4 linked regions of the Homo sapiens genome follow. The protein of the gene in region 3 interacts with the protein of the main gene of each other region in a pairwise test. Each region holds a gene or a part of one and is shown on either strand. Other genes may lie near its edges. The genes, in order: KRTAP3-3, SPRED1, OLIG3 and TLE5.

Region 1 (5,357 bases), on a different chromosome or scaffold from region 3:
TTTTTATTATAACACAGCAACTGGCATTCGATAATTATTAACCGTAGGAAGAAACAAATGGATGTTGTGTTTGTATTTGCTTCACCTGCCAGATGGTTAGCTTATTTTCAGCAGAGACAATAAAACACAGGACACACAATAGACATTTAATAAATCTTAGTTGAATAAATAATGACATTATTATATTTTTTTCATAAATAGATCATGTCACCTGGATTAGTTTATATATTTTGTCATATTTGGTGTTTGGGTAATGTTCAGTATTTCTCAACCTGTCTGAAACCATTTTTTGGGAGGACAAGTCAGGAAAAGTCTACTTTCAAATATGCCGATGTACTAGACCATCTTACATGCAAGGATGTTTAATTTTCTTAAAACAGCAAGAACAGCAAAATTAAGAAATTTTTGTCCATACTGCCACCATTTTCAGTTTCACTAATGTTTCCAGTTTTTCTTTAAATGCCAATGTTCAGAGTTAAGAAACGCATTTAATGAATGAACAGAAATAAACAGAAGTAATTGTAGACACTTGTGCTATGCCAGAGATGTAAAATTTATTAGGATAATCATGAAGAACTTCCTTAATTTTCAGAAAGATACCACCCAAGACTGAAAACAGAATTCCCAAACCACCCACAGAAAGAGACACTTTAATATGAAGGAATCGAACAGCTTCAGGAAGCTATAGGCATCCACTGATTCAAACTGCAGTTGGTTATAGCTGAATGGTCATTGAAAGTTTCTTGGTCTCTTTTTTTTTGCAGGGGGTGATTGTGGTAGTACCATCCTTGTTCCAATTTCTAAAGCAGAGTACATTAGTTGTAGGTACTGAGATAGGTGAATGCTAAAGCTTCTATGTTGACTTTTTCAATCTCAGGCACTGAGCAAAGTAGCCATCCATTAGCAGCCTCTTGGGAGGCAGGGCTCACAGCAGGGCTGAGTGAAGGTGGTGAGGTTGAGGGTCTCCAGGCCTGGAGTTGGCTGGCAGGAGTTGAGCAGGAAGCAGGTGGGCACGCAGGGCTGAGGAATGTGGCAGGGTGGGGGACAGTTGTCACAGCAGGTGGGCTCCAGTAACCAAACTGTGTGTGGGCAGGTGCTGGGCAGGCAGACTCCACAGCGGCAGGATTTGTCAGAGGAGCAGATGGTGGTGGCAGGCCCGGTGGGGACACTGCAGCCTCGAGAGGCACAGCAATCCATGGCTATTAGAGTCTGTGGTATTTATGGGTTTGATTGAAAAGAAGGATAAGGCTTCTGAGGTGTGAATATCTCTCCTTTCTCTGGGGCTCTTATGTACCCTCTCCACTGGGAGTTGGTCCAGCCAAGAGGCTTCTTTCCTGGTTCTTGTTTATGTTAGTGTACCCATTATTCTTTAATTTGTTTGACATTTAGACTCTGTAAAGAGTCCCCATTTTCCTAATTAACTTTTATTTGAGTTCGTTGCTAAATCTGAACTGATTACCCTTGCTATTTGTCACTGGAACACAAGCTTTATGAGGTATCACCAAAGCCTTCTGTTATTATATTTTCAACACCAGCCCTGCTGGGGAATATTGCATGACAGTGAGTCTGTAATATGTGGGCCTGCTCTCCAGTGCTGCTTTATTTTTAATCTGTCACTTTATCTATACCAATTTGTCTGATAAAGTATTCTTGTTTTAAAGAGTTGAACTTAATTTTACTTTCTTTTAGCTTTGAGGCTTTTGAAGATCAAAATTACATTAACATGAAGAAATATGCCATTAAGAAATATGGAAAAACTTTAAAAAACGCTTATTATTCTAGTTTTTTACTACAAAATATTTTGTATACATTGTTTATCATTACATTACATTACTGGAATCATATTGTGCATAGGTTCTGAAACTTGCCTTTGTGTGTGTGCATATATATTATATATATATATAATTATCTTATATTTTAAAGGATATTTGATAGTGTTACTTTTAATATTTCTTAGCATTTATTATATAATTGCACTTCTATGTTACTTTAAAATTTTATATTATTATGCATTGAGGTTATTTTCCACTTTTCTCTACAATAATTTTGGCAACAGAGCACCTCTGTATGTAAATCTTTGTGCATATTTTTGATTATTTCAGAAACAGAATTAATTATTTGGTAGAATTATAGGGGCAAATGTTAATTTCCAGTATTTTTAAGGCCTTTCATATCATTGCCATACTGTTTTTCAGAATGGTTCTATTTACCTACTTTTTTTTTCAAATTATCTATTTCCACCAGATGTGTTTGATTAAGAATTCCCATTTCGTATACCTTTGACAGATACTTTATTTTAAAGGTGTTTTCCAATTTCATTGGTGAAAAACACAATTTTATGATTGTTGTGTCTGTATTTCTTTTATAACCAGCTAGGTTGAAATATTCCTTCATATGCATATTGGCCATCTGTCTTCTATTGAGAGTTGGCTTGCTTTGTTTCCTTCACTGCTAATTGTGGGCAAATTGAATTTTTAGCTTCTGTCTATATAGACTAAATAAAATAATAACTTAAGAATACAAAACTAAAATTCAAGTAAAATTATTACCAAAGGAAACTTATGAGCCTGAGCTAGATTAATCTGTTGACATTTGATTTCATTCTCTCTCTCTCTTTTTTTTCTTTTTTTTTTTGCAAGGTATTGCATTTTTTCCTGAAATCAAATGTAGCTGTGGTAGGAAAGACCTGGTTCTAGTACCAGTACGCTATTTAGACTGCAGGCATAGTTCAGTGTTTAAGAGGGAGCACAAGGTGGGCTTGTGGCCAATATCATTTATACACCTCGAACCATTTCCGCTCAGCTTGGTCTCATGCTTCTTGCAAGCCATGGTTCTTCTCACATTCTTCATACCTCCTCTTTTAGGCACACCTGTTGAGTGGTGCATTGTGGTGTGCATGTTTGTATGTTTTGGGAATGGGGACGTGTAGTCAAGAGGACCACCTGAGGAGTCAGAATAGCTCTTGACTGTTCCCGGTGCTGCTGGTTATCTTCCTCGTTATGGTAAGTAATTCACTTTTAGGAGCTTCATCCTTTTTCTCTGCGAAATCAGGGTAATAGCATGCATATTCCTCCACTTAGAAGATTATTGTGAGGTTCACATGTGATAAAAAGGGTGAAAGCTCATGGACAACCATATAATGCTATGCAAAAATAAATTATTATCATGATTGAAACAAATTACAGATGAAATTCAAGGCAAGGTAAAGATAAAAGAAACATAGTCAAAAGAAGAAAAGAAAATGAGATGAAGGTAAGTAAGAGAGCAACCTTACAGGAAAGAGCAAACATTTATATTAGTTTATACAAATAAATAAATAAATAAATAATCACATCTACGATTAGAGAAAGTGGTTGGCATATAAATTAACAAACCTAAAAATTTGAAAAGCTCCCTATGGCTCTGATTGAAAGGGAGAATTCATGATATCTTCTGGTTCCTGGACTTTCCCCAGATTTATCTTTGTATGAATGCCTGCCGAAGTGTGCACCCTTTTACTTAGAACTGATTAGTATTTCACTTATTATTTAAAAAGTAATTCAACAGACATTTACTGAGCAGTTACTATGTGCTAGTCACTGTGATAAATGTTGGATTTATAGCAATAAACAAGATAGGCACCATCCTTGCCCTCATGAAGTTTACAGTTTGGTGGAAGAATTTTTCATACACATAACATATTATTATAAGCTGCTGCTATTATACATTATAATAGGAAAGAAAAAGAGTAAAAGACAAAAAATAAAAGAAAAAATTATTTTGAGGGAAACATTACAAAGGAAACATGGCTTGCAGACCCTCAGGATTAGAATTTCATGGCAGAAAGCTATCAGCTTCTTACCTGGGATACAATATTACTTTGAGTTCACCATAAAAGCTTAGAGCAACTATTACTGTTTATGCAGCACATTGTGTTTCTCTAATCATAAATAAGACAAGGTTACAGATTACAAACAGTTGTAATGCAACAAGTTTATTATAATAAGCTCTTCTCTTTTATTGACAAGACTTGCAGCACTTTATTAAAATGTATTTTCTCTGCAGTGGTCTAAGAGACCTGAGAATTACTCTCCTTTGTTTATAAATGATGACAGTGATTCATAGAGAGGTGAGATGATTTGCCTTAGATGGTTCGGGAGCCAGTGTGTTAAAAACTAAATATAGGACCTATTGGGATTGAGCTACCTTTTATGTGGTTAGAAATGGAAGTTTAAACTATGTGTCAGAGATACTAAGCATTTTATTTTTAAAAACAACGCGTATCTTTTTTCTTTAAGTGAATGTAGGAAAAACATGGTGATTCTTGATGAGATGGTAGATTTTCGGGGTGCTAAAAATCTAGACACACACACACATACGCACACGCACACTCACACATCCAAGAAGTCCAGTTTTAATTATATCTTTCTATAGTCAATGGAGGGATCTGGGACAGTGCAGATGTAAATCAAAGATTAATAATGAAAAGAGACAGAAGCAAAACATGATTATATTGGTCTCTTGCTTGAAATATTTCATTGCTTCAAAGTTTCAGTCCAAACCCCTTTGCTTTGAGGAGCCCCTTATGTCTGGGTCTTTGCATTTCTGTCTTCTCTGCCTCACCCTCTTCAATGCATTGTTCATCCAGTCATTCCCAACTACCTCCTGTGGCTTAAAGACACCAACCTTTCCGCTGCCTCCATGATTTATTAAGCTGCTATTCTGTCTGGAACAACTGTTCCCTACCTCTCCTGCTGCCTATTCATCTTTTAAAGCTTAGACTGGATAGCTCAGAGGCTTTCCGTAGCTATTTCTCACCTTTGACACTGAATCACCAAATCAGGGTTTTAGTTATTCTTTCTGTATGCTTGCATGCCATGCTGCTCACCTCCCAGTCACAGCAGAATCCCTCAGCATTGCAATTATTATTATGATAACTTGTCTTTCTTCTTCACTAGATTTGGGAGAGACTTGAGGGCACTTGAGACTTGAGGTAATAGCATTTCTTTTATCTTTTTACTCCTGGCATCAATATGATGCCTGACATAGGGCAAACACTCAGGAAATATGGACAAATGAATGAGTGAATGGACTAGATCTCTTGTTGACAATATCCTCTGTAGTGTCCCATAGACTCCATGGCTGCTAAGTTCTGTTCATTTAAGGTTGAGCTGTAAAAAGCCTATGGAATCCCGTGAGAAATTTCTCTCTCAAGACACTAACAGGTACATTGAGGACATTTTAAAACAAGTTTGTTAAAAAGCATTTGCTTCTCCCCTTCCTTGTCCTACTCTGTTTCTTGCATGTCTTCTTGTGGTTTTATTTCAATGCATTTTCAGATTTTGACTTGTGTCTTTATATATGTATTGTGTATAGAT
Region 2 (7,030 bases), on a different chromosome or scaffold from region 3:
TTATAAGTATATACATACCACATTTTCTTTATTTAATCCACCATTGATGGACACCTAGGTTGATTCCATGTCTTTGCTATTGTGAATAGTGCTTGAACTTATTTTTAAAACTACTTTTTCTGTGAGTGTTGGGAGGCTCTAAACAATAGATGCCATTTGAAGACAAGATTAGGGTAGATCACATTGAAATTTTATTTGAGAGTTAATAGTTGAAAATATTAATTTTGTAAAATAGAAGAGGGGGCTAATTCAGTAATATTTTCATGTATTAAAAATTAATTTGGTGTTATTATTATATATTAAAAAACTAGAATCAAACTGTTTTTATGTCTTCCCCTTTTTAACAATTCCAATTTAGCATTGTTTTACAAAATACTGCTTTTCCCACTGTTTATGAATATAGTATAAATGTTGCAGTAATTTATGACACTACCATTTACTTCCCCTTGAATTCTAGAACTTAATCGTGAATTGTTGTTGTTGTTGCAAAATGGTTGTAACAAATATTTAATAGTAAATCTGTGTAAAATGCTTTAGCAAAGTGCCGACTCAAAAAAGCTCTGGATACATGTAAATTATTTTCTTTTTTTGAGACAGAGTTTTACTCTTGCTGCCTAGGCTGGAGTGCAATGGCATGATCTCGGCTCACTGCAACCTCTGCCTCCCAGGTTGAAGTGATTCTCCTGGCTCAGCCTCTCGAGTAGCTGAGATTACAGGTTCCCACCACCACGCCCGGCTAATTTTTGTATTTTAGTGGAGACGGGTTTCACTATGTTGGTCAGGATGGTCTTGAACTCCTGACCTCAGTTGATCCACCCGCCTCAGCCTCCCACAGGGCTGGGATTACAGGCGTGAGCCACTGTGCCTGGCGGTTAATTCTTTTCTAATACACATAGAGTCATCAAAGTATAGGAAGCAAAAGTCTTGAGAGAATTTCACTGCATTGCCTATAAACGGGCAGGACTGAACCTTAGTCACATTTTTGGTTATTTCTGAATTAATAAAACTTACTACCAAGAATTATTATATTCAGTGGTATGCTGATAAAAGGTTTAACAATCAGCTTTCAAGAGGGGACACAAGTCAATGATTTATAGCATTTACATACCTCTACCATGGCTGCTTTTACTCAACATGCCATCATTGCATATAGCATTGGGAAGAAATGAGCAGCAGTGTGGCATTATATAGTATTTCCACCGTACAGATATGACAGACATAAACTACCTCAAGAACCTAGGTAATTGTAAAAATATAGTAAAATAATTAGGAACTGATGAGTTTTGTGTATTTATTATTTTATTTTTAATGCAATTTATTTCATTGTAGAGTTATATATTCTAGCTTTTAACAATGGCTTCCAAAATTCTTGAAAATTTAATATCTGGCTCTTGGGAGCCAGTATAAGCAGACTCTAGCAGACCTCCCCTCCAAAAGTATAAATTAGAGATTCCTAGTCCATGATCTGTGAATGAGTTCCTTGGGAAGTGCATAAAGCCTAAAAGATTTCTGAGGAGAAGTATTGGTTGAGTACCTAATGTTTGTCTGCCACTGTAGTTTAAGGATTTGGCAAACAGACAAAGACCAGCTCATGCAGGGCCTAGTAGGTCATAGTAAGAATTTTAGTCTTGAAAGCATTGAAAAGACATTGAAACTAGGGAGTGGTCCAGTAAAGTTGCTATTTTTTTTTAAGAAAAATTATTACTCTACCTGCAGAGTAGTGCAATTACTATTAGTAATTCACTACTACTAGTAATATCTGAGGGGATCATCAGCAGTGCATGGAAGAGATGTGCAAGTGATAATGGTGATTGGAAAAGAGTGGAGGTAATGAAAATACAACCTTTCACCAAATACCAGCTGAGCATTTATTATGTGTCATGTGCTACTATGGGTTTCATTTGAATTATTTTTAATTCTTTTCCTCCTGTTTTCTTATAGGGGATTCTTAAAATAATTAAGGTGTGTAGTTCTAGTCTTTTTATTAGATTAATTGCAAAGATCACTAATATATCCACTTTTGTTTTATTTGACAACTAACATATATTAAAAGCATACTGTGAATATGATGAAAGACAGGCCCAGGAACGAAAGACTGAAGAGACCTTATAACTGTCCTGGAATGGATCCTATACTGGAAGGATTTTTAAAATGCTCTAAAAGGTGTTATTAGTATAGTAGGCAAAAGTGGAACGTGGTCTATGGAACATGGTCTATAGATTAAAGTTCTGTGTTGGTTTTAAATTTCCTGAATGAGATCACCATACTGTGATTACATAAGAGAATAGTATTGCACTTAGGAAATATACTCAAGTGTGTATTAAAGAGCAGTAGAACATAATATATGTAACTCCTTTGAAATAGTTCATAATAAAGTAAATTAAATGTTTATACATGGATATATGTGGAGAGAATGTTAAAAATTAATGTGATAAATCTGGATAAAGGGAAAACAGGAATTTTCTGTGTTATTCTTGTTACTTTTCTACAAATTTGAAATACTTTCAAAATAAAAAATTTAAAAACCAAGGGTATATTGCTTCATGCATTGCATGAAGCTCTTAACATGAATGCACATTCGGTCATTCCACTCTAAGCTCTGGGATATTTTAGTACTGCAATTTCTGTTTTACAGATGAGTAAACTAAGGCTTCAAAAGTTAGGTAACTCACTTAAATGCATATTTTGAAAAAGTGGCCAAGTGTATTTGTTTTACTGCTGTGACCATTAAATCCTTACACAAAATATAAATACGTCTTTTAAGAAGTTTAGGAAAATGACTTTATTTTGTTTTGTTTTGTTTTTGAGACAAAGTCTCACTGTGTTGCCCAGGTTGGAGTGCAGTGACGTGATCTCAACTCACTGCAACCTCCACCTCCTGGGCTCAGACGATTCTCCTGCCTCAGCCTCCTGAGTAGCTGGGATTACAGGCATGTACCTCCACACCCAGCTAATTTTTTATATTTTTAGTAGAGATGGGGTTTCACCATGTTGGCCACGCTGGTCTCAAACTCCTGATTTCAAGTGATCCGCCCGCCTCGGCCTCCCAAAGTGCTGGGATTACAGGTGTGAGCCACTGCCCCCAGCCAAAAATGACTTTAAAAAGTTAAATTTCTATTATTACCAACCCCCTGCCTGTTTCCTGGAAGTAATTCCTGATATATTCCTCCAGAAATTTTGTATGCAATGGGAGTGTATATATGTGTGTATTCTTAAAATGGGAGTATAATAAGCATCCTGTTTATAATGTGCATTTTTTTATTCCATCTTAATCTCTTTATTGAGTGACTTTGTGAAGTAGACCACTTTATTTAAAATACTAAAAATTATTCATTAAAAAGTAATAGCGTTGTATCACCTCAGTTTGTATTTATGAGCTACATTAGATGCATTTGATATATGTATATTAATTTTTGGTATTTGGCTTTTGTCAGGTGGTTTTGGAATGTATGCTTAAAAAAGACCTCATTTATAATAAGGTCACTCCAACATTTCACCACTGGAAGATTGATGACAAGAAGTTTGGTCTTACGTTTCAAAGTCCTGCTGATGCTAGGGCTTTTGATAGAGGTATCCGAAGAGCTATAGAGGATATTTCTCAAGGTAGGTATTCTTGACTATTTTCTTAATTTATTTATCGGTTATATATAGTAGAGGTTATCTTTCTTAAAGTTGACCCAAAGTAGTTTTCACACTTTAACCATGTCAGCTTTTGTGATATGTGACCAGGCTTTGAAACCTCACAATAGATGAAGATAAAATAATAGATTCCTTAACGTGATTTGTATTTGTCACATCATAGTCTATGTCAATTGCATGTATTATCTTGAAGAGTCCATCAACAGCTGACTTCAGATAATTCAAATGTTTTAAAATAAGAGCTTGAAGGAAGAGGGAATAGAAATGTACAGCTGCGAGAATCCCAGTTGGTATTCTACTTGTGTATGTATGACACCAGTCACATCCTTTTTTTGGGTAATTATATAGAACTTGTAATATTCAAATGTATGTAGACTCTAGTTATTCCATGACAAAAGTCTTTACTTGATTGATTTCATTATTGAGGATTGGCAGAGACCACAAGCTCATCTATTCCTTTGTTATCTTGCCAGTCTATTAAAATTATTAACTCAAAAGCATACAGGTTTTGAAGGGAAGAATAATGTTTTTTCATGTAAGACTGGCTTATGCTTACTTAAACAAAAATCACATTAAAACCCATTTCTTCCCATAAAGGAAGAACTAAGACTTGATTTTTTTTTCTAATTAGGAGGAAAATTATTTCAATTTAACTAACTTTCTATATAAAGTAACTGAAAGTGTGCTAGACTACGTTGTGATTTGTGTTATTTTGAAGATGTCATTTTAATAAGAAAATCTGAAAACATAAACTGTGAGACCAGTCACAGGCAAGAACATGGAAATACATTGTACAAATCTGTTTTGATAGTGCATAAAACTGTAGTTAAGTAATTTATTTAGCTACTTTAAAAGATTAGAATTTGGTAAATGAGTAATTTTTTATTCTGATCCAGAAAAAATTACTATGAAGTAATAGTAGCCATTTTGTCTTTATTGTAAGACCCCATAAATTCTCCTTAGATCAGTGTTCTTAACCTTGGCTACACATTAAAATCACCTGGGAAGCTTTTGAAGCTTAAAATGACTAGTCTGCACTCCAGACCAATTGAATCTATCTGGGGAATAGAGTCGAGTCATCCCTTATTTTTCAAAAACTCCAAGAAAGTTCAAATATGGTGAAGAATTGTTCTCTAGTCAAGGAATTGTAATTTGAATTTGAAGAAAAAAAAATAAGAAACTTAAAAAAAAAAATACATGATGTTCTGTGCCTCATTCCACAGAGATTCTGATATATTTTGGTTTGACGCCATACTCTGGCATCAGTGTATTTTTTGACAATTCCTCAGTTGATTCTAACCTTTAGCCAGGTTTGAAGAACCAGTGCTTTAAAGAGAGAGAAAAATAGTATCCATGGCTGCTGGAATTTATATGATTTAAAGTTTTGAATTACTTTTAAGTTTATGCTCATGTACCATAACAGTATACCTCTTTCACTAGGATCAAACAGATTGGGTTTAATGTTTTAAAAAATGATTTATAAGGAGTAGCTTACAAACTTCTAGGTAGAGTAGACTACAGTACTTAGTCTGCCTTGTTATTTTTGAACATTAAAAAACATTAGCTAGCATTATTATCAGCTGCTATATAGACTTTCAACAATCTCAAATTGCTTTTACTCGACCTTCTGTGACAAAAAGATAAAATATGCTGCTCTTTCCAAAGGGCGCATTTCTTCTTATCTCATGCCTACTCCGTGCTAAGCTGTGCCTCTCAAGGGTAGCATGAACTAAGAGTACTTTGCTAGGACAAATCCTTTCTTATTAATTTATTGAAACTAAAGGTACTCTTAACAGCATGAAAATCTGTACAGAGACGTTGATGCAAAAAAGTCAGTAACAACAATTGGCCATTAACTGTCAATAGTGGATTAAAACTCATTTGTTTTCCATCTTAGCTAAAGCAACTAAAATCCTGGTTATGGGTACTAAATACTGTTTCCTGGGTCAAAGCATTTAGAAAAATTGAATAAATCACATCTTAGCATCACCAGAGCAATGTAATTATAATCTGCCTAGTAATTTTGAGTATTTGGGAGAAACTAGGGGCAGGGGTAGCTAGAGATAGTATACTTTCAGAGAAAACATCTCGTTAGTAAGCAGCTGGAAATTTACCTATAGAGGAGGGAAATAATTACATTATTCTCCATTATTCTAACAGGGGCAAATGCAAGTGGCCAGTACCTTAATTGCCAGGCAGTCCAGAAAGATCTCTGATTAGTCTTCTAAAGTATTATAATGACATAATCAATTAGTCATTAATACTGGACTCTAAGACAAAAATTCTATACTTAATTAACTTTTATCTATTTTCTTAGGATGCCCCGAATCAAAAAATGAAGCTGAAGGGGCAGATGACTTACAAGTAAGTAATGGCTTGGAAGGAATTTGTAAACATAAAGGATGTGGAAGAAATCACTAGCCTTATTCAATAAACTTATCAATTACTAAGAATATTTCTAAGACACTCTATTTGTCAGATTTCTCCAGAAGAAAAGAACCAATACAGGTTGAGCATCCCTCATCTGAAAATTTAAAATCTGAAATGTTCCAAAATCTGAAACTTTTTTTCTTTTTGAGACAAGGTCTTGCTATGTTGCTCAAGCTGGTCTCGAACTCCTGGGCTGAAGCAACCCACCCACCTCCCCACAGTGCTGGGATCATAGGCCTGAGCCACCGTGCCTGGCCCCAAAATCCGAAACTTTTTGAGTATGGACATGACACCTCAAGTAGAAAAAATTTACACTTGACCTCATGTGATGAATCACACTAAAAATGCAGTCAGAATTTTGTTTCATGCACGAAATTATTTAAAATCATGTATAAAATTACCTTCAGCCTGTGTGTTATAAGGTGTATAAACATAAATTTCATCTTTAAATTGGGTACTATCCTTAAGATGTCTTATTATGCACATACAAATATTCTGAAATTTGAAACAGTTCTGGTTCCAAGCATTTCAGATAAGAGATATCAATCTTTATATAGAAAGTAAAGTTTCTGGGGTTTTTTTTTTCTTTTTTAAGGAAGTGGTTCATAAGATTGTGGGCTGGGTTGGCAGAATGGGCAGGCACGCTGAAAATTGGCACAAGTTGATGTTGCAGTCATGAGAAGGCCGAATTCTATTTTCTTCAGAGGACCTCAATCTTTTTTCTTATGCCTTTCAACTAATTGCGTGAGGTCACCCACATTATGGAGGATGCCTAACTGCCATATTAAAAGGACATTCAAGCAACACTGTGTAGATATTCATGTGGTGAGGAACTGAAGCGTTCAGACAATAGCCATATTAGTGAACCACCTTGGAAGCAGGTTATTCAGCTCCAAGCAAGCCTTAATAGATGACCAGTTGTGGCATGTTTTCATTGCAACCTTATGAGGAACCCTGAGCC
Region 3 (6,819 bases):
GGCTATTCCTTGTTTGCACATGAGGAAACATAGTTAGAAATGTTTAGGTTTCCTTTTTTTGTTCTGTTTTGTCTTGGAGGGTGGTTGGGTTGAAAGGTGAAGCCCACAGGGCAGCCTCCCGCCTTTCGGTCTCGGCCAAAGTTTCTGCTGGTCAAGTTTGCTGCTTGATGAGCGAGAGGAGCCCCTGGACGTTGCTGATTGACCTGCCTCTCACAGTAGCTCTTCGGCAGGTCAGCTAGCGACATTTGCTACTGGACTCTTGCGGGGGTGGGGGTGGGGGTTCGCTCCTGAGCCAAAATCGCCGCGGCCTCAGGCAGAGCCGGCAGCTGCTGGAGAGGAACTCGGTGGCTAAGGCTGCGGAGCAGTGGGCGTCGGGCACCGAGCGGCGCGCACTGGGTGTCAGGTAAGAGACGATCCCTGGTGATCTGGGAGGCACAGGGGGGTGTTGAGCACAGCACAGCTTCCCGAGTGCGCGGTCCCCGCGGAGCGCCCTGGGCGCGCGGGTACAGCAGGACGGCTCTTCTGCCCCGGTCCACGCGCCGACCCGCTGTTTTCATATGTTGTAGGAAGGCTGAGAAACTCCAGGCTCTTCTCAGAGCCAAGACAGGCTTGGAGGGAAGTAGCCTGCCTGCCTTGGGACGCACCTGTTGCCGGAGAACGATCCCCGCCTCCGCGGCGCAGCCCGCCCCAGCCGCGAGGGCGCGGGGTGTGGCCCGAGAGAGCGCAGCCCGAGCCACCGCAGCAGGGTCGCTCGCTCCGGCTCCTCGCCGGTCTGAGCCCTCCGAAAGGGGTCTCGGCCAGGGCCAAGGTCATGGTGCGTCTCCGGCTGAGCCTCTGTAGGCTGCTGCAGCCTTGGCCAGGCGGCGACTCCTTTACTCTCTCCTTCCGTACAAGTCTGGGGTGGGCGTTGGTAGTCAGCCCTCAGAAAGAAATCCGTGTGCCTGCCCTCCTGAGCTCCGGGCCTGCTCCTTCTCGGGTTCAGGGCTCAATCCGAGGAACTGAGCTGCGGTGGCGGGGGTCGAAAAGAGACTCCACGAAGCAAGACGTGCGGGGCGACTCAGCCTTTTGGGCCCCGGCGAGTATTAACCCATTTTACGGTAAGCAAAGTTGTGGCACCTTTACTCACTCCCCTCGTCTAGTTGTCAAGCCCCGCAACGGATGGGAAGTGGGGGAACTAGCTTCTAAAAGTACTTACTGGAAGGAGGCCCTGAACCTTGGACCACCCACACTCACGCATTACGGACCTTCGAAAAAGCAGAGGGTGACCGAGGAGCGGAGGGCGCGCCACGTCCCGGCCTCGGAGCCAGGGAGTCCCGGCCTGGTCCCCGCAGATCTCCCATTTCAGGCACCTCTGTTACTGGAGCTGAAAACCCTTAGGGAAGAAGGAAGGGAATGTCCTGGTCTGTTCGGGCAAAGGCCCAGTCGCCCCTTCCCGGCCCATCGCAGCCCCCTCGGAACCGGCTGCGGCAGGCGTCAGCCCCCTCTCGGCTGAAAGGCTGTGCTGAAGGAGAGTGGCTTCTGGTTTGGACTCCCAGAACCCTGGCCCCGGACTTCCAGCCCCGCAAGCTTGTATTTCGAGGGCTGCTCTACCCTCCTTCCCTCCCCTCCCCCCGCCCACGGCTTGCCACCTTCGTTACTAATTTGGGGGAGATTTTAAAACTTTATTTTACATTGTCCACTGGGAAAATCAAGACTTTTTTTAAAGGGTAAAATATCTTGTAGCAACATGATTTTTCCACTCCTTCATTTGCAACCCTTCTGCTCTGACCAGACAATTCTACTTCCCCAAATCAAAACTCAGGTGCAGCGTTTTCAGTCTGGGTGTGGGAAGGACAGACGCCGCCGACGACCTAGGGTCAGGGAGGTGGCTCAGGAGGACGGCGGGGGCCAGACCTGTGCACCGTCCGCAGGGCGGGGAAGCTGCTCTTCGTCCAGTCCAGTGCTCGCTCCCAATGCCCTCCCCCGTCCGCCTCTCTCTCCTCACCCCATTTGATCAGCAGGGGAGTCGCAGAGGGTTGTCGTTAGGACTAGCCACTAGCTTCCTCCCATCACCTGGGACTGCACAAGTTCTGGAGCACTTCCCCCCTCCCCTCCTTTTTTAAATAACCAGGAAGACTTAGTGTATGTCACTATCTTATTGGCGAGTCTGGTGAATTAAGAAACATTCTTTATGCTTGGTATTAGGAATGCTTTTGGACATTAGTCTTTCCACATCCAATCTAACCTCTTGAATTAAGAAACTTTCCTTCCACCGAGATGAAGGTGGTAGAAGAGGCTCCTGTCCAATCTGCAAGAGCACTAACTTCCTGGCCTTGACGAAGGGCTGTTGGCCATTTTTCCCCCATTACAGAAAAACAAAATTCGGTGTAGCAAAAGCATCCATGCCAATGTTGCGTTTGCCCATCCTTCTGGTATTGGCCAGAGCTGCCTTCGCAGCGTGACTGTCAGTGGGGCACAGCCTCAGAGCGTGCAAACTCCGGACCTGGGCGCGCATCCCTCTCCCACTGACCGCTCGGTTTGAGTCAAGGGAAAGGGGGGCATCCTGTTCTTCGAAGTGACTCAGCGGCGCAAGAGGCCCCAAGTGCCCGAGGTTCCGCGATTGATTCGATTTCACACTTCCACCGAGACTCTCAGTCACTAGCTAGCGTTTGTTTCCCGTTCCACCAAGCCGGGAGAGGGGCGGTGTCCGGGTTCTTCTAGAGACCACTCCTGGGGCTCTCTCCCTTCCCGGGATTTCTGCCTTCCCGCCCCTCGTGCTGCTGAGCTAAAGTCTTGATCACAAAAACACAGCAAGGGGGAAGAAAGATCTACGCCCACCTCCGCACTCGCACCGAAGGCTCCAAACTCCGACCTCCTCTTTATTCCCAGAAACGACTCTGCGCTGAACCGCAGTGCCCGGGCACGCACAAGGGGCTTTCTAGGTCCTTTCGTTGTTTCCCTTCCCCCGTGCTTCTTTGCCCACGCACCCCACCCCCCCGCCCCACCACCCCGACATCAGATAGTTTATTATGAGCTTCTGATTTCCCTGTCCGACGCCGTACGGCGGCCCCAGCCTGGTGGACCCACCCGCGCAGGCCGGGGTGCCGCTGAGTTCCCGGAGCTCGGGGCACGTCAGCACAGCGGCCAGAGGAGGCCCGGCGGAGCTTCGGGCGCGGACCGTCCCACCGTTTTGCGCCAGCGCCAAGGTCCAGGAAGCCTGGAGTGGGAACAATCTCTCTGGAGCTCTCAGGAACCTAACAATCTCTCTCTCTGCCTCCTTGGCTCCTTTTCCTTCCCATCCTCCCAAGTTGCTTTTCTTGTGACATTAACATTTTTTTTTCGCAGTTTTTGGTCTAGGAAGTTAAAGAATTGTGCAAAACTGAAATTCTTTTAGAAATCCATGTTTTAAAACGAAAGAGAGGACACAGAAAATAAGAGACCTCTCCGCCACAATACTGCCAGGAGCAAAGCCATCACCGAACATGGACATCCCGTTGAAACCACACCAGAAGGGCCCAATAAACAAAATTGACAGAATGGAAGTGTTTAGGAAAAGAGATCTAATGAAAAAAAAATATTGAGACAGAGAAAGTCGGCATGCAGTCTTCCCACCACCCCCAGCCCCCGCTGGCAGCACCTTCCCTCCGACCGCACCTCTGTCCCTCAAACCTTTCCACTGAGACCTATTTTTGCCCATATTTCTCTAAACTTGGGAGCAGCCAGGAAAGAAAGGAGAGCGAATGTTTCAATTCCTCTCTCCAAACTCAGAGGAACCTCCACCAACCGCCTGGCCACCTTCTCTTGCCTTCCTTCCGTTCCTGATGTGTGATTTGGTTAGAGAAATTGGGAAGGGGGGTGGGGTGGAAGAAAGTTAAAAAAAAAATCAGGAAGGCGTAAGCTGGAGCGGTGAGTGTGTCAATCAGAGGGTTTTGTGCCTGGGGGCTCCTAGCGGTTCGGAGCAGAGGTGTCCCAGGGCGGCCCCACAATGAATATGAATAGGAATCCTTGCTAAATGGGACAGCAAAGCGCACCGCCCTGAATGATGGCACGTCATCCTAACCAGCCCAGGATAGATAGGAGGGCTCCTTTTGTCTCTTTTCTCCGCCGCAGCTCTATAAAAGCCCCTCTTTTTCAGCGTGAGGTTAGTTCAAGCACACACCAACTAGCTGTCCAGGAAGCAGCCTAACCAGAGAGAGGGGCGTGGGAGGGAGAGAGGCGGGGAAAAGCAGCGTCTCCGCTTTTCTTCTCACGTCTTGCCGCGGAGAAGTGGGTTCCTGGGCAGTGCAGATTTTTTTTTTTTAATTCAAGATTTTCTTTAATTTCCCGCCTAAAGCCTCCCCACGGTAGGGCCGCATCCCCTGTAATAAAATGAATTCTGATTCGAGCTCTGTCTCCAGCAGAGCTTCATCTCCGGACATGGATGAGATGTACCTGAGGGACCACCACCACCGCCACCACCACCACCAGGAGAGCCGTCTCAACTCGGTCTCGTCCACGCAGGGCGATATGATGCAGAAGATGCCCGGGGAAAGCCTCTCGCGGGCTGGCGCCAAGGCCGCGGGAGAGAGCAGCAAGTACAAAATCAAGAAGCAGCTGTCGGAGCAGGACCTACAGCAGTTGAGGCTGAAGATCAACGGACGCGAACGCAAGCGGATGCACGACCTGAACCTAGCCATGGACGGGCTGCGCGAAGTCATGCCCTACGCGCATGGGCCGTCGGTGCGCAAGCTCTCCAAGATCGCCACACTCCTGCTCGCCAGAAACTACATCCTCATGCTCACCAGCTCCCTGGAGGAGATGAAGAGGCTGGTTGGCGAGATCTATGGGGGCCACCACTCGGCCTTTCACTGCGGGACCGTGGGCCACTCGGCCGGCCACCCCGCGCACGCGGCCAACTCCGTGCACCCGGTGCACCCCATCTTGGGCGGCGCGCTCTCATCTGGCAACGCCTCGTCACCGCTGTCCGCCGCCTCACTTCCCGCCATCGGCACCATCCGGCCTCCCCACTCGCTACTCAAGGCGCCCTCCACGCCGCCCGCGCTGCAGCTGGGCAGCGGCTTCCAGCACTGGGCTGGTCTGCCCTGCCCCTGCACCATCTGCCAGATGCCGCCGCCGCCGCACCTGTCCGCTCTCTCCACAGCCAACATGGCCCGGCTGTCGGCCGAGTCCAAGGACTTGCTCAAGTGAGCAGCGGGCGGGCCCGGCTGCCAAGGAGGAGGGAGAGCGGCGGGAGGGGCCGCGGTGCCGGGCCGGGAGGGAAGAGGGAGGCTGCACGCTCGGCCCACGGGAGGGCAGGCTCCGGGGCCCGCAGCCTCCCACGCTGTCTGAGAGATCTCAGACTCCACTTGACCCCCGGAGGGAAAGGACCAAAATCAAACCGCAATTTCTAGGTGGTAGCAAAGGGGGACTCGAACCAGATGTCGTGTGTTTTGCATGCATGCTTCTTTTCCCCATGCCGCGCCAGTATTTTTCACTGCCATATGCTCTTGTCAAAACTGCATTTGTTGTATAAAGATGGGATCGGTGTAGTTAAAAACTTGCGAAGGGACTTTTGAGTTGGCTTTCTCTGACTCTGTGTTCTCGCTTTGGAAAAAGACGGCCATCCCTTTTGTGCAAAACAAATGTAAATATTTTCTTGAGATGGATGCGATTATGATTGTCTCTGTCCTTGCCACAGTTTTTCTAGAGACAATGGAGAGAGAAAGAGAGAGAGAGCGCGAGAGAGATCAAGACCCAAGTTTTGAATCTCAACCGAGGTCCAGGGCATGACACCTCCTATGTGGGTTTTCCTTTCGACGCAGTGTAGGTCAAAAGAATGCATGCACGCTTCTAAATGAATCTTGTCTGAATATGTCGTGCAGGCTGTGGTGCCGTTTTCCTTGTAACAAGGATTTATTAGTGAATTATCCCAAGTACTCCATATATCTGTCTGTGGTTGTATGAAATGAAAAAAGGGGCAGAGTGCAAAGACCCACACTCACGCACACGCGCTTCTTCTCCCACCCCCACCCCCTTCAAACTTTATTCGGAACCTTCCTTTGCTGTTCTGGGGCCGCTATTGTAAAAGCCTGGGCTCCCTCTAGTAGCTTGCGCCACCCCCCCTCGCTCAGTTATTCTGCATGCGGGGTTGGCTCTCTCTATTATCAGCTTTGAAAACTTATCCTGGTTTTGGGAGGGGTGCCGTTTTTATTTTCCTGAACATTTGCTTGAAATATTTTGTTAGGGCCTCAAAGACGATACCTGTCTTTATTTTTTATATATTCTTGATAACTATGATATATTTATTAATAACCAGTGTTTCTGGATGAGATTTCAAATAAAAAAGAACCTTTAAATCGTGGCTTTGCCTTTGCCTAAAATCTTAGCAGATGGGGGTAGTGGGATAGGAAACACGTGGACCAGGTAAGGTGTATCTGGGTGAGGAATTTGGATGGGTGGGCAGATGTGAAGGTTTTCCGTGATTACGTACAAGTAAACAGGATGGGTAAATTGGTGCTGATTTTTGGAACTAAATGTCCTTCAAGCGGGCATTGCCCACATTCATAGTATTATGCTATTTGAGCTCATTTCTCTGCAGTAATCAGACCCTCATAAACTCGAGAATTGAATTTTAAAAAGTAATCTGGAAACTTAAAGTGGCAGGAAATGAGAGGTGGAGTGTCACTACGATGACTGTGTTGGCAACAAACAAGGATGAAGCAGTACGTTAACTTCTTTTCACTTTAAATTGAACTTGTGCTTTTCCCCCCATGTTAAAATCTAGTATACATTTTAAAAGTCAACAAAGAGTGGTCTTAGAAAATAGTCAAATACTCACCCTGCTTGCCTGCACCCTCGGAA
Region 4 (7,710 bases), on a different chromosome or scaffold from region 3:
TGGCGACAGAGCAAGACTCCGTCTCAAAAAAATAAAATAAAATAAAAAAGAAGTTTCACTCCAAAGCCTGCATTTCTGGCCTTTCTTGAAAAATAGGATGGTCTGGCCACCCAGGGGCTGTTACGCCTCGAACATCCGGTGTGTGCCTCTGATATGGTAGGGTCCCTCGTTGGACAGCAGGAAGCCCAGGCCCAGCGGATGGAGACCCCAAAGCTCAGAGAGGGCTTCCGGCTTAGCAGAGGTCACACAGCACTGTGACCGCCATCTGATCCCTTCCCTGTGGAATCAGGTCAGCCCCGGGGCTCACCAGGCGGTATCCAACCCTTCATATCGAGGAACCCGCACAAAAGCTTCTGGGGCCTGCATGGAAAGCTGACTCCAGCACCTTCGACTGTCAGTGTCTCAGTTTGCCCAGCTTGAGAATGGGTACGACAGTCGGACGACAGGAAGGATGAAGCACGAGGAGGCACGAACGGTCTTGAGCACACAGGGAGTACCCAAAAAGGTGGGATATTTGCAGCAGCAACAACAAAATCGAGATTCCCCTTTCTACTTGGAGGAAATCCAGGATCCTTCCAGGAACACTTCTGGGGTGGGCACGCTTCAGTTTAGAGAGGGCCCCAAGGCCAAACGGGGGTTTGAGCATAGCCTGACTTTCTCCAGATTCCCAGGCCCGGCGTGCCCCTCCAGAGCAGGGCAGGCGAGAACCTATATCCTTAAACCAGGAGAGAGACCTGGTGCAAACCTCAGCCTTGCCACTTCCTCAATGCTATGGACACCCCCGAGGAAATAACATCATAACATCTCTGGGCTTAAGTTTCTTTTTTTCTTTCTTTTTTTTTTTTTTTTTTTTTTTTGAGACAGAGTCTCCCTGTTACCCAGGCTGGAGAGCAGTGGCTCCATCTCTGCTCACTGCAACCTCCGCCTCACGGGTTCAAGCAAGTTTCCTGCCTCAGCCACCCGAGTAGCTGGGATTACAGGCGCCCGCCACCACACCCAGCTAACTATGTATTTTTGGTAGAGACGGGGTTTCACCATGTTGGCCAGGCTGGTCTCGAACTCCTGACCTCAAGTGATCCACCTTCCTCGGCCTCCCAAAGTGCTGGGATTACAGGCATGAGCCACCACGCCTGGCCTGGGCTTAAGTTTCTTTAAGTGTAAGAGGACTAAATAGTTCCTTCCCCTTAGATACCGCAGCGTGGCAAGCTCTTCAGAAACGCCAGATTTCTGAAAGAAGCAGCACCTTGGAGAATCTGACGGGTGCTGGGAACCCTTTCTCCAAAACTGGGCAAAGAGAGAGATGACCAGGCTGCAGAATGTTTCTGTTTTGGGGGTTGAGGGATGGCGAGTCCGTGCCGTAACTCCAATTGTTGGAAGGTCTTTTATCCAATGGGGGACTTGGGGGTATTGGGGAGGAGGGAGGGGCTCTGAAGCCACACAGCTGAATCTTTGGGCAAATTATTTAACTATTTTTGTGCCTCGGTTTTCTCCTCTACAAAATGGGGCTGTTTAAAATAAATGAATTCAGTATTTGTCAAGTGATTAGGTCAGAGTCTAGCATATATTATTTTCCCAATCTCCAGGCCTCAGCCTTGCCATCTGCGCAGAAGAAATGGGGGGACTCACATTCTCGGGACGCAGGGACCCCCAGTCCCCCAGCTCACCTGTGGTACTGAGCTTGCAGTAGCTGAAATTCGTCTTTGATGCGGTCGCAGGAGTCCGAGGTGGTGAATTTGAGTTGCTGGGGTAGGTGCGAGGAGCCCTGTAGGGATGGGGCGGCCCGGGTCAGGCCCAGGCGTGGGCTGGACCCCCCTCAAGGGCCGGCTAGGAGGGAGCGGCCGCGCAGCTGCGGCGCCCCCCCTCCTGCCCCACTTCCTGGGCCCGTGTTTACGGCCCCTGGCGCGACCCCACCCGCGCTTCCTGCCCCCCGCCTCTCCCGGGGGAAGCCGAGCGGGTGGGTGCGCCCGGAGCCGCCCCGTCCCCCGCCACCCCCAGGCAGTGGGGGTGCGTTTTAAGGCCCGCCCTAGATGGGGGGCAGGGTGCGCCCTCTACCGCCCTCCAAAGCGCCGGGAGGGAGTGCACATCCGAGGGGGGTAGAAACGCGCCCTAGGGAGCCCCCTCCCCAAGTTGGGGGGCAGCGATTCCTCCCTGCAAAGTCCTCTTGGGGGAGGGGTCTCTCTCTCGGTGCTCGAAATCTTCCGGGGGGGCCCAACCCCAGATTCCCAGCGCCCTTCCTCGGGGACACGCTCTTCCGGGAGGGGTGCGCCTCGGATCACCCCCCCCACCACAGGCCCCCAAAGGATCCCCGGGCTAGAGGTGCCTCGCGGGGCTTCCGGAGCGCCCCAGGCCCGAGGCCAAGGCCGTCCGAGGCCCTGACTGTCCCGGCGGGTTGGGGGGGGGGGGCGCCAAGCCGGGAGCTGCGGCGGGGGGGCTCGGGGCCCGGAAGCTGGGGTGGATCGGGAACTGGAGGGGGGGTGTCCGGGGGCCGGCGGCAGGAGGGGAGGGGGGTCGCGCCGGGCTGGGAGCTGGAGAGGGAAGACAGGGCCGGGGAGTTGGGGGGGGCGCCGGGCCGGAGGCACCGGGCCTGGGGGTTGGGGGGCGCGGGGCCGGGAGCCGGGGGTCGGGGGCGTAGGGCCCGGATCCGGGGTGGGGGCGCCGGCCGGACGGGCCCCGCTTACCGAATGCCTGCTTTGTGGAAACATCATGTCAATCGCGGCGGGGGGCGCGGGCTGCGCCCCGGCTGTGCGCCCCGGCTCGGGCTGCTGGGGGCGCCGGGCGGCCGCGCCTTTGTCCCGGCGCCGATCGGCAGCTCCCGGGGCCGCCGCCGCCTCCCGCGCCCGGCCTCGCCCGCTTCCTGCGCCCCCTCCCCGCGCGCCCGGCCCCGGCGCGCCCCGGGCCCCGCTTCCTGCGCGCCCGGCGCCCCTCCCCGCCCCTCCCCGCCGCCCGCCTCCCCGCTCCCCGGCCCCACCGCTATTGTCTAATGGCGGCGACGCCGGCAGTGGCCGCGGCTCGGCTGCTGCGGAGGCTTCGGCTCCACCTGCCGCCGCCCGTGCCCCGTGCGCGCCGCCGAGGGGGGGGACGCGCGCGCCCGGGGAGGCCTGCGGATCCCCACGCCGGCCCGCCTCCCCGTGGCCCGCCCGCCGCGGTGACCTTGGGCCCGGCCCGCCCCCGCCCCGGGCAGCGGCCCCCGCCACCCTCTCCTACCCGGCAGCCGGCCGGGCCTCGGTTTCCCCATCTGTCAAAGAAAAGGGACCCGGCTGCCCGCGTCGAAGCCGCCGGCCCTGCTGTGGCACGACCTGGACGCGTGCCACGGACGTGCTCTGTGACCTTGGCTCTGGCTGGGCGGTGGTTCTTGCTGAGCCTTAGTTTCCTTTTCTGCAGAAAGGCAGCGGTAATGCCGCCTTCCTGAGGGAAGCCATTCTTGTGACACATTTATAGAACGCCTACTGTGTGCCAGGCCCCGCTGCTCCAGGGCCCTGGGGTGGGGCGGGGCGGGGGTGGGTCCCTGCCCTGGTGGTGGTGCCTGGAGACAGACAGAGACAAATTCACAAGCTGAATTCCTGGCAGGTCAGATGGTGGGGACAGTTCTGCAGAAAAACCAGCCGGGAGAATGGCAGGGTAGGAAGGTGCAAAGTTAAAGAGGTGGGAGGGAGGATCAGAGACGGCTTCCTCCACCCCTAAAGCGACCTGAAGAAGGAGGGAGAACAGGGGGATGGGGTACAGAGGTAGTCAGAGGCAGGACCAACAGGTGCAAAGGCCCTGGGGCAGGACTGTGCCTGGCAGCAGAGTGCCCGGGGGGAGGTCAGGAAGGCCGGAGGGAGGCAGGGCCGGGGGCTTCGTGCTTTTGTCCAGGGCCCCCCCACCCCACAGCAGGGCTTGTGCTTGGGTTAATATTTACTGCTGCATTTTGAGATTTCTAATCATTTTTGAACAAGGGGCCTTTGAGTTTTCTTTTGCACTGGGCCCTGCTAACTCTGTAGCTGGTGAAGCAGGCCAGTCCAGCAAGGACTTGTGGGTCTTGGGGAGGACTTGGGATTTTGCTCTGAGTGAGGTAGGAGCCCTGGAAGGCTGTGGGAGGAGGAGGGACGGGACCTGGTGGTTGGTTGGTTTGTTTTTTGAGATGGAGTTTCGCTCTTGTTGCCCAGGCTGGAGTACAATGGCACAATCTCAGCTCACCGCATCCTGGGTTCAAGTGATTCCTGCCTCAGCCTCCCGAGTAGCTGGATTACAGGCACGTGCCACCACGCCCCGCTAATTTTGGAGTTTTAGTAGAGACGGGGTTTCTCCATGTTGGTCAGGCTGGTCTTGAACTCCCGACCTCAGATGATCTGCCCGCCTCGGCCTCCCAAAGTGCTGGGATTACAGGCGTGAGCCACCGTGATCAGCTGTTTGTTTGTTTTTGAGATGGAGTCTCACTCTGTTGCCCAGGCTGGAGTGCAGTGATGTGATGTTGGCTGACTGCAGCCTCTGCCACCCGGATTCAAGTGATTCTCCTGCCTCTGCCTCCTGAGTAGCTGGGATTACAGGTGCGCATCACCACGCCTGGCTAATTTTTGTATATTTAGTAGAGACAGGTTTCACCATATTGGCCAGACTGGTCTTGAAATCCTGACATCAGGTGATCCTCCCGCCTCCACCTCCCAGAGTGCAGGGATTACAGGTGTGAGCCACTGCGCCTGGCCCTGGACTTGGGCTTTTGCTCTGAGTGAGGTGGGAATCCTGGAGAGCCGTGGGAAGAGGAGGGATGGGACCTGGTGGCGGTTATTAAAGGATCCCTCTCTCTGCCACGCAGAGAACAGGTCCCAAAGAGGCTACTGAAATAAGGCTATGACATTAAGGTCCCCCTTTGGCAGGTGCGAAACACAGTCTCTTCATCATCGTCATCCACTAGGCAGCCTGCTCCCTTGAATGAATGCAATTGATTTGGGCCTTGGGTGTTCCCATCTGTAAAATAGACTTGGAACCCCAGGCTCCTTACCTTGGCAGGTAAGGGTGATAGCCTTCAGTGATCAAGATTAATAATCTTTAAAGCAGTGTTTTAATATTTTTATTAAAAAAAAATTTTTTTTTTGAGGTGGAGTCTCACTGTGTGGCCCAGGCTGGAGTGCAGTGGTGCCATCTCGGCTCACTGCAAGCTCCACCTCCCGGGTTTATGCCATTCTCCTGCCTCAGCCTCCCGAGTAGCTGGGGCTACAGGCGCCCACCACCACGCCCGGCTAATTTTTTGTATTTTTAGTAGAGACGGAGTTTCACTGTGTTAGCCAGGATGGTCTCGATCTCCTGACCTCGTGATCTGCCTGCCTCGGCCTCCCAAAGTCCTGGGATTACAGGCGCGAGCCACCACACCCGGCCTAAAAAAATTTTTTCAGACACAGTCCTCTGTTGCATAGGCTAGAGTGCAGTGGTGCAATCATAGCTCACTGCAGCCTCCCACTCCTGGGCTCAAGTGATCCTCCGACCTCAGCATCCTGAGTAGCTGGGACTACAGGAGTGCACCACCATGCCCAGCTAATTTTAACATTTTTTGTAAGCCGGGAGCAGTGGCTCATGCCTGTAGTCCCAGCACTTTGGGAAGCCGAGGCCAGTGGATCACAAGCTCAGGAGTTCGAGACCAGCCTGGCCAACATGGTGAAACCTCGTCACTACTACAAATACAAAAATTACCGGGGTGTTTTGGCGGGCGCCTCTAATTCCAGCTACTTGGAGGCTGAGGCAGGAGAATCGCTGGAAGCTGGGAGGTGGTGGTTGCAGTGAGCCAAGATCGCGCCACTGTACTCCAGCCTGGGTGACAGAGTGAGACTCTGTCTCAAAAAAAAAAAAAAAAAAAAGATGAGGCTAGAAAGGATTAGGATTTTGGATTTTTAAGATTACTACTACTTGGTGGCCGGGTGTGGTGGCTCACACCTGTAATCTCAGCGCTTTGGGAGGCCGAGGCAGGCGGATCACCTGAGGTGAGGAGCTTGAGACCAGCCTGACCAACATGGAGAAACTCCGTCTCTACTAAAAATACAAAATTAGCCTGGCATGGTGGCTCACGCCTGTAATCCTAGCCACTTGGGAGGCTGAGGCAGGAGAATTGCTTGAACCTGGGAGGTGGAGGTTGCGGTGAGCCAAGATTGTGCCACTGCACTCCAGCCTGGGCGACAAGAGCGAAACTCTGTCTCAAAAAAAAAAGAAACAAAGAAACAGAGATTAATACTACTTAGTAACAGCCAAGCCTTCAACCAACCGCAACACCCTTGTTTTTCCTGCAGGGCCCTGAGAGACTGCGTTCCTAGACTGCCCCTGAAGCCAGTCCTGCCGCTAGCACCCCTGCCACCCCACCCCCACTGCCGTGGGGACCAGACACCCCCTCTCCTGGGAGGCCACCTGCCAGTGTTTATTTAGGCAGGCGCCTTCCGGTATCAGTGTGCCCGCCCAGTGACCAAACAGCCCCATTTTCGAAGCCCCCACACTGTCAGGGGAAGCAGAACTGGACACAGATACCTTGAGCACGGTGAGGTGAGGGCTGGGCCACCCACAGGGACCTAGGCCTGTGAAGGAGAGAGTCATTGTGAAATCATCGTTTTTAGAAAATAGGTTTTTTTTCTGCATAGAAGGCAGCCCAGAATGGTGGCCCACACTATAAATAATCAACCAAGCCACACAGGTCTGTATGTTTTTGCTCCGCACCAGGGGCTGCCTTAAGCACTTTAACCTTTAGGTACAGTTGTCACACCCATTTTAGAGATGGGGGGAAAACAGGCCGGCAGGGTGGCTCAGGCCTGTCATCCCAGCACTTTAGGAGGCCGAGGCAAGCAGATCACTTGAGGATCAGGAGTTTGATACTAGCCTGGCCAACATGGCGAAACCCCGTCTCTACTAAAAATACAAAAATTAAGGCGTGGTGGTGGGCGCCTGTAATCCCAGCTACTCTGGAGGCTGAGGCAGGAGAAGCGCTTGAACCCGGAAGGCGGAGGTTTCAGTGAGCCGAGATCGTGCCACTGCACTCCAGCCTGGGCGACAGAATGAGACTCTGTCTCCAAAAATAAAAAATAAAAAAAAAGAAAACGAAAAAAAATGGGGAAAGTGAGTCACAGAGAAGTGAAGTGACTTGGCCAAGTGGGTAGGGGGCAGAACCACGATGTTATCCCAGGCCTTTGATCTTGACCTTGGGCCTTTGAGCACTCTGCAGTGTGGCTTCTGGCCGGGACACGATGGCAGCACGTGCTGCTGGGCTGAGGAGCTGGGATTTTACCTGGAGGGCACTAGGGAGCCACAGGAGGTTTTAGAGCAAGATTCTTCAGTTAGCGCCATCGCATTCCACCCTGGGCGACAGAGGGAGACTCCATCTCAAAAAATAAAAGTAGATTGCATCAAAATAGTGTTTATCCTGATGACTTAGGTATTTGGCATCCCCTTAGCTTTTTTATTTTTTTTTGAGACAGGGTTCTTACTCTGTCACCCACGCTGGAGCGCAGTGGTGTGACTTCGGCTCACTGAAGCCTCGACCTCCCAGGCTCAAGCAATCTGCCCACCTCAGCTTCTCGAGTATCCGGGATGAAAAGCGTGTGCCACCACGCCCGGCTAATTTTTGTTTTTCATAGAGATGGGGTTTCACCATGTTACCCAGACTGGTCTTGAACTTCTGGGCTCCAGCAGTCTGCCCTCCTGGGCCTCCCAAAGTGCTGGGATTACAGGTGTGAGCCACCACGCCTGGCCCCTCTTAAG

What was found.
Region 1: the proteins of OLIG3 (region 3) and KRTAP3-3 interact in binary tests that used the Homo sapiens proteins (3 or more experiments, as listed by UniProt).
Region 2: the proteins of OLIG3 (region 3) and SPRED1 interact in binary tests that used the Homo sapiens proteins (3 or more experiments, as listed by UniProt).
Region 4: the proteins of OLIG3 (region 3) and TLE5 interact in binary tests that used the Homo sapiens proteins (3 or more experiments, as listed by UniProt).

Annotation. Positions count from the first base shown.
Region 1 is NC_000017.11:40,992,901-40,998,257, forward strand, and holds KRTAP3-3 (keratin-associated protein 3-3), read right to left. Parts: upstream 1,265-5,357; 5' UTR 1,198-1,264; coding exon 901-1,197; 3' UTR 530-900; downstream 1-529. UniProt on the Homo sapiens protein: In the hair cortex, hair keratin intermediate filaments are embedded in an interfilamentous matrix, consisting of hair keratin-associated proteins (KRTAP), which are essential for the formation of a rigid and resistant hair shaft through their extensive disulfide bond cross-linking with abundant cysteine residues of hair keratins.
Region 2 is NC_000015.10:38,318,807-38,325,836, forward strand, and holds part of SPRED1 (sprouty-related, EVH1 domain-containing protein 1), read left to right. Parts: intron 1-3,434; coding exon 3,435-3,603; intron 3,604-5,956; coding exon 5,957-6,003; intron 6,004-7,030. UniProt on the Homo sapiens protein: Tyrosine kinase substrate that inhibits growth-factor-mediated activation of MAP kinase. Negatively regulates hematopoiesis of bone marrow.
Region 3 is NC_000006.12:137,491,699-137,498,517, reverse strand, and holds OLIG3 (oligodendrocyte transcription factor 3), read left to right. Parts: upstream 1-4,123; 5' UTR 4,124-4,347; coding exon 4,348-5,166; 3' UTR 5,167-6,319; downstream 6,320-6,819. UniProt on the Homo sapiens protein: May determine the distinct specification program of class A neurons in the dorsal part of the spinal cord and suppress specification of class B neurons.
Region 4 is NC_000019.10:3,059,496-3,067,205, forward strand, and holds the start of TLE5 (TLE family member 5), read right to left. Parts: upstream 3,001-7,710; 5' UTR 2,706-3,000; coding exon 2,679-2,705; intron 1,763-2,678; coding exon 1,665-1,762; intron 1-1,664. UniProt on the Homo sapiens protein: Transcriptional corepressor. Acts as a dominant repressor towards other family members. Inhibits NF-kappa-B-regulated gene expression. May be required for the initiation and maintenance of the differentiated state.